2 separate regions of the Homo sapiens genome follow, and region 2 is linked to region 1. The links come from fine-mapping of genetic effects on gene expression. Tissue or cell type: sun-exposed skin. Region 1 holds a variant in brackets; the other region holds the start of a gene. All regions are shown on one strand. Distances are between the middles of the regions.

The links. PIP is the estimated chance that this variant, and not a neighbour inherited with it, causes the effect.
Region 2: it holds the start of MRPS2, and the variant in region 1 is fine-mapped to the expression of MRPS2 in sun-exposed skin (GTEx, PIP 0.95).

What each region holds. Positions count from the first base shown.
Region 1 is chr9:135,529,565-135,537,665 of GRCh38, forward strand. No RefSeq gene overlaps it. Among named protein-coding and RNA genes, the nearest start is that of LCN1, 12 kb to the left of the region's middle. The variant A/T (reference allele first, on the strand shown) is at 4,901.
Region 2 is chr9:135,496,991-135,505,091 of GRCh38, forward strand. It overlaps MRPS2 (mitochondrial ribosomal protein S2), which reads left to right and starts at 3,692. Exons shown (of 4, transcript NM_016034.5): 1 at 3,692-3,763; 2 at 4,008-4,133; 3 at 4,854-4,983; 4 at 6,552-7,681. The coding sequence starts at 3,721. The coding sequence ends at 7,143. It overlaps PIERCE1 (piercer of microtubule wall 1), which reads right to left and starts at 2,879. Exons shown (of 3, transcript NM_001048265.2): 1 at 2,719-2,879; 2 at 1,595-1,673. The coding sequence starts at 2,861. It overlaps LOC101928525 (a long non-coding RNA gene), which reads right to left. Exons shown (of 3, transcript NR_121579.1): 2 at 7,246-7,329; 3 at 6,283-6,711. RefSeq lists silencers at 2,982-3,151, 3,422-3,591, 3,802-3,961, 7,193-7,347 and an enhancer at 3,917-4,541.

The DNA.
Region 1 (8,101 bases):
CAGGGTCTTGCTCTGTTGCCCAGGCCAGACTGCAGTGGCACAATCATAGCTCACTACAGCCTGGAGCTCCTGGGCTCGAGCTCTTTTTGTTTTCAATATTTGTTCTCTTTATTCATAGGGCTGGATTATTTCTATTTATGTATCTTCCTGTTGACAGAGGTGTCTCAAGTTTTCTCTTCGCTGTATCTGGTGAATTTTCCTTCCATATGTTGTGATCTTTAGTTTTAGAATATCCCTTTGATTGCTGTTTGCAGTCGCTGTTTCTCTGCTGCCTCCATGTTGGCTCCGAGTCAGTCCTCTTGAGAACGGTCACATTTTCCTTTCTTCATGTGTATAATAATTTTGGATTGTATCCTGAACAGTTTGAATGATGTATAAACTCTGGGTTTTGTTAGGTTTCTGCAAAGAGTGCTGGTTTTTGTTTTTGGTTTTTGGTTTTTGGTTTTTGTTTTTTTAGAAGGAGTTTCACTCTTGTCGCCCAAGCTGGAGTTCAGTGGCACGATCTCAGCTCACTGCAAGCTCCACCTCCCGGGCTCAAACGATTCTCCTGCCTCAGCCTCCCGAGTAGCTGGGATTACAGGCACCCACCACCAGGCCTGGCTAAATTTTGTATGTTTAGTAGAGACGGGGTTTTGCCATGTTGGCCAGGCTGGTCTCAAAGTCCTGACCTCAGGTGATGTGCCCACCTCGGCCTCCCAAAGTGCTGGGCCTCCCAAAGTGAGCCAACACGCCTGGCCTGGTTTTTGTTTTGAAGCAGGAAGTTATTTGACCTCCAGCTGTCAGCTCTGCCTCTTCTGTGGTGCACAGCAATTCAGTTCACATTTCAGTCAGTTCTTCTAGGCTTTGCTGGGCTGCTTCGTGTCTTTCCTGTGTGTTCATTTTTTAGGGGTTAGCCTGAGATTTGGACGGTTTCTGCCTAGAACTTGGGGCTCTCTCTTTGGCTCTCTTCTTTCTTGAATTTCTCTCTTCACTTTCCAGCAGCTATCATTGCCTAGGACTCTGTCCTCTGGTTCTTCAAGCCAGCAAAATTGCAAGGTGTCTACCAGAGCTTGATCTGCTCCATGTGGTGCAGACAGGGACTGCCCTCCAGATAAAAGCAGTGAGAATGGGAAACTCATCTAGTGCTGTCACCTTCTTCCAGGTGCTAACCGACCTGCAGTGTCTGTTTGCCCAGGGAGAGTGGTTTCTGCATTTTGTCCAGAGTTAATCATTGCTACTTGAGGGAGGCTTGGTCAGATGGGAGCTCCTAGACCACGATGGGAAGTGGAACTCACCATTTAGCAAAATGCACTTCACAATCCCAATAGGAGAGGGCACGCTTGAGCTAAGAAATGGCCTAAGTCACCGATGTCTCCCACTCTGCAGGTAGAGTCACTGGTTACTACCAATGCGGGAAAATGTATCCAGCTTATCTTGACTGGAAAAAGGTACCATCATGTGTTTAGAGTCACTATAAAGAGAACACAGGAGGTGAGGGTCTCAGGTGGGGTCTCCCTCGGCCCTGTGTAGAGCACACTCAGATTGCTCTGCCCTCCAATCTGGCTGTGCTGGGTTGAGGGCCACAACAGGGACATTACCAGCCTGCAATGCAATCTGCCTGGTGTGGGCTGGGCACGCTTCAGCATCCGGAGAAAACCTTCAAGCGAGGAGTCATGGGCCATGGGGCATGCGGCCGGGAGCTGCCTGTGTACACGAGGAGGATGCATCTGGGAGCACACCATTGGGGTCTCACATGACTGTCTGTCCCCCACCCCTCAAGCCGCACAGATACACACAGCCCCATGGGATCGTCACTGAAGCTTCATCGGCCATTGCATTTCTGGGATCCCTTCACCCTCTGGGTTGTTTGCCCAGTGGGAAAGCTGCACATTCATCTCCAAGGTGTCTGAGTCCTGGGTCAGCGCTCTCATCAGGCTCTGGTCACTGTAGTGGCTTTGTCATGGTCACCACTGGGCAGGGAGGCACCTGTGGGTGCTCCCCTGAATCTCCTGAATTTTAGACTCACTCCTCTCTGCTCATCCTAAGTAGCAGCCACTTCACCAGCTCACAATAATCAGGGTTAACTACCCACCAATATACACAATCAGGGTCAATTACCTGCCAACATACATAATCGGGGTTAATAATTACCCACCAATATACACAATCAGGATCAATTACCCACCAATGTACACATTCAGGGTTAATTACTTACCAATATGAATAATTAGGGTCAATAATTACCAACATATGCACAATCAGGGTCAATAATTACCCACTAAGATACATAATCAGGGTCAATTACCCACCAAGATACAGAATCAGGGTCAGTAATTACCCACCAAGATACAAAATCAGGGTCAATTACTCACCAAATATACATGATTAGGATCAATTATCCACCTATATATAATCAGGGTCAATAATTACCCACCAATATACATAATCAGGATCAATAATTATCCCCCACTATACATGTTCAGGGTCAATAATTACCCACCAATATACATAATCAGGATCAATAATTATCCCACACTATACATGTTCAGGGTCAATAATTACCCACCAATATACAAAATCAGTCAATTACTCACCAATCTACATAATCAAGGGCAATAATTACCCACCAATATACATAATTAGGGTCAATAATTACCCACCAATATACATAATCAGGGTCAATTACCCACCAAGATACATAATCAGGGTCAATAACCCACCAATATACATAATCAGGGTCAACAATTACCCACCAATAAACATAATCAGAGTCAATAATTACCCACCAATATACATAATCAGGGTCAATTACCCACCAAGATACATATTTAGGGTCAATTACCCACCAAGATACATAATTAGGGTCAATTACCCACCGAGATACATAATCAGGTTCAATAATTACCTGACAATATACATAATTAGGGACAATAATTACCCACCAATATACATAATCAGGGTCAATTACTCACCAATAAACATAATCGGGGTTAATAACTACTCACCAATATACATAATTAGGGTCAATTACCCACCAAGATACACAATCAGGGTCAATAATTACCCAATAATATATATAATTGAGGTCAATTTCCCACCAATGTACATGCTCAGGGTCAATAATTACCCACCAATATACATAATCAGGGTCAGTTTCCCATCAATATGCATAATTAGGCTCAATAATTACCCACCAAGATACATAATCAGGGAAAATTACCCACCTATATACATAATCAGGGTCAATTACCCAACAATATACAGAATCAGGGTCAATAATTACCCACCAATATACAAAATCATGGTCAATTTCCCACCAAGATACATAATCAGGGTCAATTTCCTACCAATATGCATGCTCAGGGTCAATAATTACCCACCAATATATATAATCAGGGTCAATTTCCCATCAATATACATAATTAGGCTCAATAATGACCCACCAAGATACATAATCAGGGTCAATTACCCACCTATATACACAGTCAGGGTCAATTACCCACCGATGTACATAATCAGGGTCAATTTCCCACCAGTATACATTATCGGAGTCAACCACTCACCAATATACATAACAGGGTCGATCATTACCTACCAATACACATAATCAGGGTCAACTACCCACCAATATACATAATCAGTATAAAATACCCACTAGTATACAGTAACTCCGTTCTTTACCCGCTCATCTGCAGGCATGAGGATCCCAGTGTGGCCTGGTGGAGCCAACACAGCAGGTTTTCTGGAGCATTCACTGTGCTTCCTGGTAGCAGAGCTTTCCCTCTTGGTAACCTAAAGCTCTAATCTCACATAAGCTAAGGCTGCAGGGGTGGCAGCTTTATATGGTTATAGCTTTAAATGGTTATAGCTTTAAATGGTTCTAGTAGGAAAAATAAATGCTTAAGTCAATGGCCCAAGCCTCCACCTTAAGAAGAAATGATCAAATTGTGCCTAAAGAAAGTAGAAGAAAGGAAATAATAAAGAGAAGAAATTGACAATGGGGAAGCAGATGGGGTGGGTGAGTGTGCACCCCCACATTCTGATTCCTTGGCCATTGGGGTTCTATGCCAGCTATGGGTTTGTTGCCCCTCAGTTTCAAATTTGCTCTTAATTATCCTGCGTGTGACTGGAGCTAAACCCTGTCGACGTTTCTCCTTCGTAACTGGTGCACTGTTGGGCCTTGTTAACAGAGGGCACGGGGGTCGCTGGAGGAAGGGGCTTCCCTTTGGATTCAGGGGTCTTCTTCATTCTCTGTCCTGAGGGGCTTGGCTGGCAAGCTGGATGCCAGGTGGAGCTCAGCCCCAGTGAAGTCAGCAGTAGCCCCGTGGGTGGCTTTTGGTGAGTTCTTGGATACCCAAAGTCAGCAAACTTCTGTGCCATCCCCGGGGCCGCAGACACACCCTCTCCAGGGAGGCCTGAGCGCCTTCCAGGTTGTTCCTACCCCGGTGCGCAGCCTCGGCCCTGGGGTAGAGCTGGCTCCCATTTCTGTTATTTCTGTGGTTTTAGAGTCCTCTTTCCCCATTGGTAACCCCTCTCCTGTTACCAGTTGGGGATTCTTTACAGGAATTTGCTCTTCAAATGACTGCGTGACCTGTCTCTGACACCCTTTCTGTGTGAACCACGGCCTTTACTTTCTGAATTTGGACACTTTGACATCTGGAGCCTTGCTAACCCTGGAGGAAGTGCTTCTCCTGGAGTTGGCTAATTTCTAGAAATAGCAGATGACTTGCCTGTAAGTGTGCCTTCCATATGCAAACCGGTAACCAGTCAAGAGCCCACACCCTCCCCAGGGCAGGTACCATCTGTAAGTGTGCTTCCATATGCAAACCAACCAGTCCAGAGCCCACACCCTCCCCAGGGCAGGGACCAGACAGCTAGGGACAGCCAGCCCCCACACCCCAGGGCCCGGGACATTATTGAA[A/T]CCAGCCCGCCCTGAGCCTGTTTACCCTGCTTCCTCTGTTCCTTCCCGTGGGAAACGTGGGAACCGCAGTGCAGGCTCCGCCCGCACTCTCCTCCTGCTCCCAGTGCCTCCAGACAGGCTCTGGTGCTTCTGTGAGGCCCCGCCCCTCCTGTTTCTAGGGGCCTAAGTGTAATAAGCCTCCGTCCCACAGTCATTCCTATGGCTGTGTCTCCCCCACCAGCCTAAAGCAAACCCTGGGAACCCTTCAAACACCTGCAGTGCAGAGTCCTTTCTCCATGTTATGTGGGGCCGCTCTGGTGTCCCAGCCCCTGTGAATGAGGTCACGACGCCAGCTCAGCCAGTCCTGGAAGCCATCTGAGAGCTGCTCTCCTGCTCAAGCCAATGTGTGAAATACGGCATTTTGGATACATCATCACCAGTGAGCCAAGCTGGACGCTAGTTAAAGCGGTGAGGACAGGTTTTATTCAGCAGCTTCTCAGAGCCAGGGACAGACTGGTTCCATGCCACTTTGTGCAGGGGAGAAGGGGTGTTCTGAAGGGAGAGTGGTTGGGGGTGCGGGAGGGAGTGGGGGCTCCAGTGAAGAGTTACAGAGTGCTGGTCAGGGTCAGTGCAGTGGGGCCAGCTGTGTGGCAGTTATGGAAGGAGGACTCTGTCCCCCAACAGAGTCTGGAAGAAGGAGGCCCATTCTTCCTGAAGGTCACATTTCTAAGGAATGGCTCTCAGGTCCTTGAGAAAGATTTCTTTTCTTTTTTCTCTCTTTTTTTTTTTTTAGACAGAGTCTTGCTCTGTCACCCAGGCTGGAGTGCAGTGGTGCGATCTCGGCTCACTGCAACCTCATCCACCTCCCAGGTTCAAGCAATTCTCCTGCCCCAGCCTCGCAAGTAGCTGAGATTACAGGCACCTGCCACCACACCTGGCTAATTTTTGTATTTTTAATAGAGATGGGGGGGGGGGTTTCACCATGTTGGCCAGGCTGGTCTCAAACTCCCGACCTCAAGGGATCCACCCACCTTGGCCTCCCAAAGTGCTGGGATTACGGATGTGAGCCACCATACCCAGCCTGAGAAAGAGTTCTGCGTTGTAGGAGAAATAGACTTCTCAAAGGGGCAGAGGAAGGAGTCACAGGTGTAAGCCCTTTTTAGCAAAAGCTCTAAGAAGGGGCAGCTGGGTGCTGGCCAGGACACACAGCAAATTCACCTGCAGTGCCGAGCTCTCAGGCAAGCATTTAGGGGGCTGGGGCCACCCCAGGGATGCGCCTCCTGCTGTTGGATGCCATGAGAGCTTGGCGATCTCCTGTCTCCTGGTGCAGGGGCTTGGGTGGAGCCGATCCATGCTGAGAGCTCTGCCGTGCTCAGTACATACGCACTGACACACTCAGCACATACGCACTGACACACTCAGCTTGGGTCCACATCGGAGCGCGGTTCTCCTGGTGTAAAGCCCCTAGAATCCATCCCGACACAACTGCCTCGGGGTAAGATGTCTGAGAAAGGGAAGTCTCATCTCCTCACGCAAAGGAGGAGGGGATGATTCTGCCCAGGCAGGTTCAGGGGGATTGGGGAGGGGAGGAGGGGGTGATTCTGCCCCGGCAGGTTCAGGGGGATTGGGGAGGGGATCAAGATTCTCACTTCCATCTGAGATCACATAAATGTCCCAGTTCTGTGTGTCATGGTCCCACTCCTTAAGCAGTGACCCAACTTTCACATAAAACACTTGGCGACTTTTGAATCCAACTCACCATGCAACCCACACTATTAAATGTGGAGTCTGATTTTCAGCCATTTCTGCTCTGTGGCTGCAAGAATGAAATATTATTCTATGGTCAGGATGGAATGTCTCCAGTGTCTTGCCTGTTACTCAAGCTCAGACCTTGGCATTTCCTTTCTGAAAGCCCCAGATCAGTCAGGCAGCCCCCGCCCCCTTCTCCTTGCAGTCATGATTACCACGTTTGTGGCCAAGCACAGCAGCCAGTTGGCTTCCCAAAGCCTTGGTTCCAGTGGGTGCCACGTCCCAATGAGCAACCACAGCAAACAATTTAGGGAATTGTGGTGTCACTTCATGCCGTGCCCATGAGTATCCCATTTTCCATCGACGAGATGCCCTCCCTGCATCTGTGCACACCCAAGAAATCTGCACACGCGCCTGTAGACATGAGAAAGCCCTGTGGTTGACAAGGGTGGGAAGAACGACTCCAAAGTTCCACTGAGTGAGGGGGAGAAGTCAAATAATTCCAAGTGCTTTCCCTCCTTGAGCTGCAGGAGAAAACCGTGAAGAAATGCATCCTCTGGTTGTGAGGCTGGGACTGGGAACAGATATTCACGCTCCCCTTCAGCCGACGGTGCATGGGGTCTTAGAACGCTTTCATTTGTTGGTCAAAAAACCCACAACCACAACCGAGCATGCAGGTTTTGCTGAGAGAACTTCAGATGCTTCATTCCAGCTCTTCTTTTCAGTATGTTTCACGGGGCTAAAACGAAGGTTGGCAGGGCTGGTTCCTTCTGGAGGCTCTTGGGGAGGAATCTGTCCCTGCCATTTCCAGCTTCCAGAGGCCTCCACATGCCTTGGCTTGTGGCCCCTCCTCCACCTTCAAAGCCAGCAGCACAGCCTCTTCTACTTCTGTTCATAAATATTCTCTCTCCCCACCCTTCTCTCTCTCCCTCCCTCGCTCCCCAGCCTCTCTCCTATAAGGGCCCCTGTGATAACAGTGGGCCCACCCAGATAATCCAGGCTAATTGCTCATCTCAGATCCTTCCTGAATTATATCTGCAAAGTCCCTTTTACCATACACACATCCATAGGGCCAGGGATGAGGATGTGGACATCTTTAGGGGACCATTATTCTGTCTACCACATACACACATCCACAGGGCCAGGGATGAGGATGTGGACATCTTCAGGGGACCATTATTCAGTCTACCACATACACACATCCACAGGGCCAGGGCTGAGGATGTGGACATCTTCAGGGAACCATTATTCAGTCTGCCCATGGGGGGAATTGGCAATCAATAGGACTGCAAGGAAATGAACAGGGTGTCTCCGGGGAGTGATGTGTCGTAATGGAGCGCAGCTCAGGGAAGTGACAGGGAGAGTAGGGGCTGCATCTTCCATTGTGTAGCCTGGAGAGGCTTCTCTGGGGAGGTGGTTTTTAAAATTTTTATTTGATATATATTTCACATGCCATCATACTCACTCTTTAAA
Region 2 (8,101 bases), 33 kb before region 1:
TTCGCCATGTTGGCCAGGCTGGTCTCAAACTCCTGACCTCAGGTGATCCACCCGCCTCGGCCTCCCAAAGTGCTGGGATTACAGGCGTGAGCCACCACGCCCAGCCTTTCAGTGCACTTTTTAATGCAAAGCATTTATCTTCTATTCCCACATGGGAGGTAAACAGCTTCTCCGGCATCCACCCTTGGTCACGAAACTGGAAAAGAGACTCCAGACGGAGCAGGTGGATAAGAAGGAGGAGAACCTCCTTGGAAACTTGTCAGTAGTACCTCATGCCTCCTACCCCACTGCCTGCTCCCATCAGTGACCTGAAGGCTCCTACCATTTACAATAGGAACATTTTTTCATGGCCTTTTATAAAACCTAAAACATCTGGACCCATGTTAGTGAGTGTGCTGGGTTTTTTTTTCTTTTTTTTTTGGTTTTTGTTTGTTTGCTTGTTTGTTTTGGTAACAGGGTCTGGCTCTCACCCAGGGTGGAATGCAATGGCATGATCAAGGCTGACTGCAGCCTCAACCTCCTGGGCTCAAGCAATCCTCCACCCTCAGCCTCCTGAATAGCTGGGACTACAGGTGCATGCCACCACACCCAGCTAATTATTTTATTTTATTTTTACAGGGATGGGGGTCTCATTACGTTGCCCAGGCTGGTCTTGATCTCTGAGCCTCAAGTGATCCTCTCACCTCAGCCTCCCAAAGTGCTGGGATTACAGGCGTGAGCCACCGCATCCAGCTGTGTCTGGTCTTTTTCATAGAAATACCTGATCCCCAGGGAAAACTCAGGGTCGTCTGATTACGGGAGAGTGATTCTCAAATGCTCCAGCATTTTTAGATAAGTAATCTTCTCACAAGGGCTCAGTCACTCACGCCACACAACTAAATAAGCACTCACCAGACCTTTTCAGTGATGAATGCTTTGACAACGAAAATACGTCCACAACATTCTCACCCCAGAATGGCTGGCCCAGTGTCCCAGGTGTGCAGGAGACACCGCACTAGTCCCTCTGTCCATTCACCTGGACCTTCATGGGGTTTGGTGTGGGGAGGTTCTAGGAGGGCCATCCTGGAGCCTAAGGTCAAGCTCAAAAAGGGTTTGGCTTCCCCAATGGCCCACAGACTCCTGTGCCCACCAATACAACTTGCCCACCCACAAGCTGTGCCGTCAGCCAGTACTGCCTCTTCAGGTTACACGTTAACATCTCATAAAGTACAATTCCAAAAAAAAAGTAGCCCTTCATTTATTTGCCTCAGAACTGAGCACCGTAAGTTGCAGGAGATGGTTGCGTGTGTGTGTGTGAGACTGCTGTGCGTGTGGTTGGGTGTATGGGGGCAGGGTGATGTCAGCAAGTCTATATCCTCCTCTTTTAAAACACTCCACTCCCAAATTCATTCACTCATTTAGTTCCATCCTACCCTCTCCCAAAGCGATTTTGGGAACCTCCCTCCTCCCCATTTGTGATGCTGGAACTTTGGCCTCCTCCCTGGGTGCACCCCTCCCCGTCTCATTGTTGACCTGTTGAGAACCCCAGGTTTTTAGCCTCTTCTTGAGGCCACCCACCCCCTGCCCCCCATGCCCGGTCTTGCATCCCACTTACAGGCATCTCGTGCACGGTGGGGGCTCTGCTCCCGTAAGCCTGGTTACTGGTCCTGTACACGGAGACAGCCTTCTGGGTCCTGGTAGATGAGAAACACTCTATTTTCATTCATTTACTCTAATTCTGCACAAGCCACAGCCTTGTATTTGGTTGACGGCACTCCCCTGGAAATGCCCCCATGGAAAGAGCAATATGCCCGGGCTGGTGATGTGGCCTCGAAGGCAGCCTCTGGGAGTACCTGGCTGATGACCGTTCTGAATGGCCCGGCCTCCCCGGCCCCCTCTGCTTGCCACTGTCCCTGCTCTTCCAAGGCAGGCCAAAGCCCTAAAGAGCAGGCAGCCAGCAAGTGCTGATCCCCAGCCCTGGCAGGGCCTCGGCACATGCTGCAATTTCTGGGTAACCTAGCTTGTCAGGAGCGGAGGCTTGGCCTCCAGACCCTGCCACCCAGAGGGTCCCTCTGCCTCTGAGCCCCCACCCTCACTGAGGCTATGCTTCTACTGGTACCACTGCCCCTACCTGTCAGTAGGACAGGCTACTGAGAGGCTGCAGGCCCACGACATAGCTTTACTTTATACTCCTAGATCTTGGCCAAGTTGTTCCTTCTACATCCCAGTCATCTCAATGCGAGAATGAGGATACTAACAGACCCTGCCCTAGAGGACTGTTGAGGGACCAAATGTGTGATGAGCACGGCAAGATGTTTGCACCTGCCTACAGGAATTGAGTTTCTTACTACTTCTTAGCCTGCAATGCCCTGTGGCAGCTCAGAGCTGGCTGAGTCTACAGCAAGACAGTGGAGGTGCTGCTGTGCTCACGCCCCGCAGCGGAGTTTCAGGGTAGAGAGGAGAGGAGACTCACCCGACACAAATCAGTGGAGCTGAGACCACAACTGGGCTTTCTCCCCCCACGGCCCTGCCCCCCACTGCCCTTATCCCCACTTCCTTGTATGAGGCTCTAGGGAGCACGGTCGCCGCTCACTGGCGGGCGATGACAGCGCGGGCCCCGGATGACCACTCGATCTTCTTGATTTCTGTAGCTAGGACCTTGGGGGTCTTGCGGGGTCTCTCACACACGGGGCTATCGAGCAGTGGACGCCAGGACCAGGCGGGCCCCAGCTTCCTCACCTGTAGCCCCGGAACCACCCCGGGTTGTTGAACCTGCCCGGCAGGTCCGCGCTCACGCGGTAGTAGTCGCTGGTCCTCTCCGGCGGGGCCGTGGCCTTGGGCGCCACAGGCTCCGCGCACGCTCTGGGGCATTCCTCAGCCATTGTGCCTGGAGGAGAAGCGGGACTCGGCGGCGTCCTGTTGCCAAGCGACGGCCAGGTCACGTGACTGGGGAGCGAGCGGAGGGGCCTTAAAGGCGCCGCGCGTGGGCCGGGTTCCTCTGCGGGTGGGTCCGGAACCTGCCGGGCGACTCCCCAAGGGCCGGGAAGGTCGGGACGGCGAGAGATTCCCTGCTGGGACCGTCGTGTGAGGCAGCCCCAGGCCCCCAGCCACCCGCGGGGGGACCGGGCCACCCCAGCATCAGGGCGTGGACTCCCGGGCGAAAGAAACCCCAGGGCCTGGGACCCCGCCAGCCGGGTGACGGGGTTTAAGCACTGCAGGTCCACTCGGCAGGCAACGATTGGACTTTTGCTGTCCAATGTACTCCAGGGATGCTATGCCCCCCAGCACCCCGAGTCTAAATTGAGACCCGAGATCTGGCTAACTTTATGAAATTCTCCTAAGCCAAATATCGTTTAAATATTACAAACAGTTTTGGAGAGCGAGAGGTTGCGCAGGACGTGGTTCACAGCTCACTTGGCGGGAGGCGAGGGTCCCCATCGCCCAGCGGGCTTCCCCAAGGGTCAGGGGCCTCCCGGGCTGGCCGGTCCCATTAGCAGGGCGGGGCGAGCTGCAGGGCGAGGACCGTGGCTCCACTCCCCGCCCGAGACTCTCAAGCCCAGGACCCCGGGCCCTGACCCCTCGCGTGCCCCGCCCCCGCAGGGAGGTCCCAGCCGCCTGGGGACAGCGCTGTGGCTCCTCCGGGCCTGTAGGCGGCACTGCGGCCCCGCGCGGATGGCGACGGAAGGGGAGGCCGCTCGGCCTGGCCTGGAGGGAGACCTCGCTCTGCCCCGCGTCCCAGCCATGGCGACATCCTCGGCCGCGCTGCCCCGAATACTCGGCGCGGGTGAGCGCGCGCTTGCGGGACCCTGGGGAGGAGCATGCGAGGAGGATGCGGAGGGGCGCGGGGACCCGATGGAGCGGCGGGGACGTGGAGGGGACCCGGGGCGAGCGCGGAGGGGACTCGGGGAGGGCGCGGGGACGCGGAGGGGACCCGTTAGGGACGCGGAGGGGCCCGTTGGGGATGCGGTGGGGAGCGGGCGTGGTGCATTCGGGACTCGGCGCCAGGACCTCTATCTACTTCCCCCCAGGTGCCCGGGCCCCGTCGCGCTGGTTGGGCTTTCTCGGGAAGGCGACCCCCCGGCCTGCTCGGCCGAGCCGCAGGACGCTTGGAAGCGCGACGGCCCTTATGATCCGCGAGTCGGAGGACAGCACCGGTAACACTGGGCGCCCAGCCGAGTTGGGTGGGAACGAGGAGAGGCCGGCAGCCGCGGGGGATGCGAACCCTAGAGGGGCCTGGGCGCTGCACGCGGTCGAAACTGCGCGCTCCGCTGGGCTCCTCCCACTCCCGTGCTCGCCGCCGCTCGGTCCTGCCTGACGTAGCACAGCGGGCTGAGGCCACCGCCTCACCATGGATAGGGTGAGAGGGAGCGGGCGGGCCAGTGGTTAGCACAGGCTTCGCTCCCTAGGGGGGTGTCACTGGACCACCGAGGCCCGGAGCCCCGAGCTCGCCCAGGCGGGCCCAAGTGACCTGGGGGCACTGGGCTTGGAGTCTGCCCACCTTGCTGGACTCCTGATGGGGACTTTCTGGCTGGCCACCTGAGACCACAAGGCGGGGAGGTGCCAGAAAGACCTGAGCAACCCGCTGGGCCCCTCTCTTTTTCTCCTCTGTCTTCCAAGTAAGACCAAGGGACGGGGTTGACCAGGTTCGACCAGGCTTACCCAGGAGCAAGGTCGGGATCAGAACCTGGCTCCAGCCCTCTGTTTCCTGAAAAGGTCCCTGTGCTTCCAGGTCTTTCCTGGGGCTGCTGGGCTCCCGGCTCCCCACCTCGGTGTCACAGAAGGCACTTGGGAGCAGGGGTGGGCGGGAACTGCGCTCTGCCTGTCTCTGCTGCCACCGGTGGGAGACGCAGCGTCGCTCCTCCTCCCTGCCGTAGATTTCAACGACAAGATTTTGAATGAGCCCCTCAAGCACTCTGACTTCTTCAATGTCAAGGAACTGTTTTCCGTGAGAAGCCTCTTCGATGCCCGAGTCCATCTGGGACACAAAGCTGGCTGTCGGCACAGGTAGGTGACACCCCCATCTGAGCCCGGGGCGGTTCCCAGGAGGAACCTGGGACCTGCTCTGGTTCTAGGGCCACTTTTGAACTGGCCTATGTCAGTTTTAGGTGATTACAGCCCCATCCTCCTCCACATGGGAATACAGAGCCCCACAGAGAAGCAGGAGTTTATTCCTCAGCTTGGCGGACGCTCTTGTGTGCCTTGGTGTGGCGCTCACAGCCCTTGATAGGGCAGGCCTGCTGGGGGTTGCAGGACTCCACGGGTTCAGAAATGGAAAGGCTGAGGGCAGAACCTGTAAGGTTGGTCCCCCCGGATCGGGCTGGGCCTTCTGGGCTGCGGGGAGGAGGAATGACTGGTCCTGTATTCTCACATGGTCATTTTGACTGCTGTGGGGGGAGGGGATGGGAGGGGCAGGTGGGAGGCCAGGGAGGAGGTTGGTGTGGGCGTTCAGGGTGAAGGTGGCGGGGCTTAAATCGCAGTAGCGGAAGAGCTGGAGCAGCAGGTGGACATGAGGCAGCAGGGCAGAGCCAGTGGGCCTTGGGCTGGGGTGGGAGGTGGCTGGGGCCGAAGGGATCAAACACCTGCTCTTCGGGTGGAGCCTGGTACTGGTTACTGAGATGGTGAAAACCAGGGGAGACCTGGGGGACATCACAAGCTTGGTTCCTACCAGGTATGAACCCTTTGCTGCCCCAGTGGAGAGGTCACACGGTTACCAGGAGGGATGGGCCTGGGCCCAGGGAGCCATCAGCATCGGGGGCTGGCAGGTGTTTCCAGAGCATCGGAAAAGGAGGTCCAAGGTGGAGCCCTGGGTGCTCCAGTGTTTGGAGTCAGTGAAGAGGGACAGCCGGGGGTAGGGGAGATGTGGTTCTCTGTTGATGCTGCTGAGAAGTGAATTCAAGGCTGTGACCTTGGCAAGATGGAGGTCGCCAGTGCCTTGATGGGCAGGGTTGCTTGAGAGGAAGGGACAGAACCCAGTGGGAGTAGACTGGAGGTGAGGACCTGGGAACCGCAAATGTGGATGACTCGCCTGTCACGCACCGAGAGGCGGGGGTGTCTCCCATGCCCCGCTTTTCTCAGCCCAGGCCAGCAGTGGTCCAGTGCTTTGGATCAGGGTTCCCCGCCCAGGCTTGGCCACTCCTGCCCTGATCCCTTAATGCTTTTGGCCCAGAGCACCCCGCTAAGTCCAACCCCAGAGGGGCCTCATCCGCAAAGCCTCGGGAAGAGGACAGTGACGGAGGCGGCTGCCCTGTGAGCTGCACGGGGCAGAATGTCCTTTTGGCGTCATGTTGGATGTCCACACATCCATATGGGGTCAGTTCTATTAGGATTCCTTCGGGAAGAGGTAGAGGGTAGGAGGGGTTAAGCCACGAGACGAGGCATGCAGAGGGGTGGCCTGGATGGGTCTGCACTGCTGTCCATGCACACGGGGAGCGTTGCAAATTGTGCTTCCCAGCCCATAGTGCCCCCACAGAGGAGCCCGGGAGTCCCTGGTGGGCGTCTGTGTTCCTGCAAGGAGCCAGTGGAGATGGCCCCGTGAACTCTCATCCCCCTTGCCTTGGTGGGGTCTCTGGCAGGTTTATGGAGCCGTACATCTTTGGGAGCCGCCTGGACCACGACATCATCGACCTGGAACAGACAGCCACGCACCTCCAGCTGGCCTTGAACTTCACCGCCCACATGGCCTACCGCAAGGGCATCATCTTGTTTATAAGCCGCAACCGGCAGTTCTCGTACCTGATTGAGAACATGGCCCGTGACTGTGGCGAGTACGCCCACACTCGCTACTTCAGGGGCGGCATGCTGACCAACGCGCGCCTCCTCTTTGGCCCCACGGTCCGCCTGCCGGACCTCATCATCTTCCTGCACACGCTCAACAACATCTTTGAGCCACACGTGGCCGTGAGAGACGCAGCCAAGATGAACATCCCCACAGTGGGCATCGTGGACACCAACTGCAACCCCTGCCTCATCACCTACCCTGTACCCGGCAATGACGACTCTCCGCTGGCTGTGCACCTCTACTGCAGGCTCTTCCAGACGGCCATCACCCGGGCCAAGGAGAAGCGGCAGCAGGTTGAGGCTCTCTATCGCCTGCAGGGCCAGAAGGAGCCCGGGGACCAGGGGCCAGCCCACCCTCCTGGGGCTGACATGAGCCATTCCCTGTGATGTTCACTCTCCTCCCAAAGCAAACCACAGCCAAGCCTGTCTGAGCTGGGAGTCCCCTTCCCCAGCCCTGGGTCAGCGGCATCCTCAGTCGTTGTTACTTACTCAGCTGATGTCACAGTGCAGACATCCACCGTTCCACCACAGAACCAGTGGCTGAGCGGACCAACGTTGCCATGTGCGTTTGCTCTGTGGGGAACAGAGCACAGAGGGTGAGCGACATGTGCAGAACGGCCCCTTGGCTGCAGTTAGGACCTCAGTGGCTGGTATGGCCAAGCTGCTAGAAGATGCTGCTGTCCCTGTGATCCCAGCAGCCCTCCCTTCACCGTGACCCCTGACCTTTGTCAGGAAGGTGCAGTTTTTCTTCTCAATCTAAATGCCTTTCAGGTGGGCCGCTTCCTTGGCTACCTGGTTCCAGGGGGCTGTTTTGTAATGAGATGCTGCTGGCAGGCCACTCAGAGGCTCCCAGCTGGGTTGGTGGGACAGCCAGGCCAGATGACCTGATTCCAGCAAAAATAAAACTCAGATTTGGGCAAAATGAGACTTGGAGTTTGGGGCTCTGTCTCGAGTGGGTTTGCTTTCATCCATGTGGTGTGGTTTTTCTTCAGGCACACACTGGGACCCCAGTGATGAGAGATGGGACGGGCACTGTGTGTGTGAGGCGCATGAATGAGGTCAGCAGAGGTGCCAGCTGCCACTAGAGGGCACCGTCTTCAGCAGTGGAGCTCGTGACAAGCCCACAGCCCGGCCAGCCTCATTCAGCAGAACAGGCTTGGTGTGGACCCAGTTTCAGGAAAGACGGGCACTTGCTGACAGGGACGCTTAACATCCCTCACCTGTGGGGATACAGCTGTGTTCCTGGAACAAGCTGCGGCCTCCTCCCAGCCCCATCCCGAGCTGCTTAGGACATAGGCCCCCCATGCACCTGACCACCCAAGGAGCCGTCTCTGGGCAGAGTCTG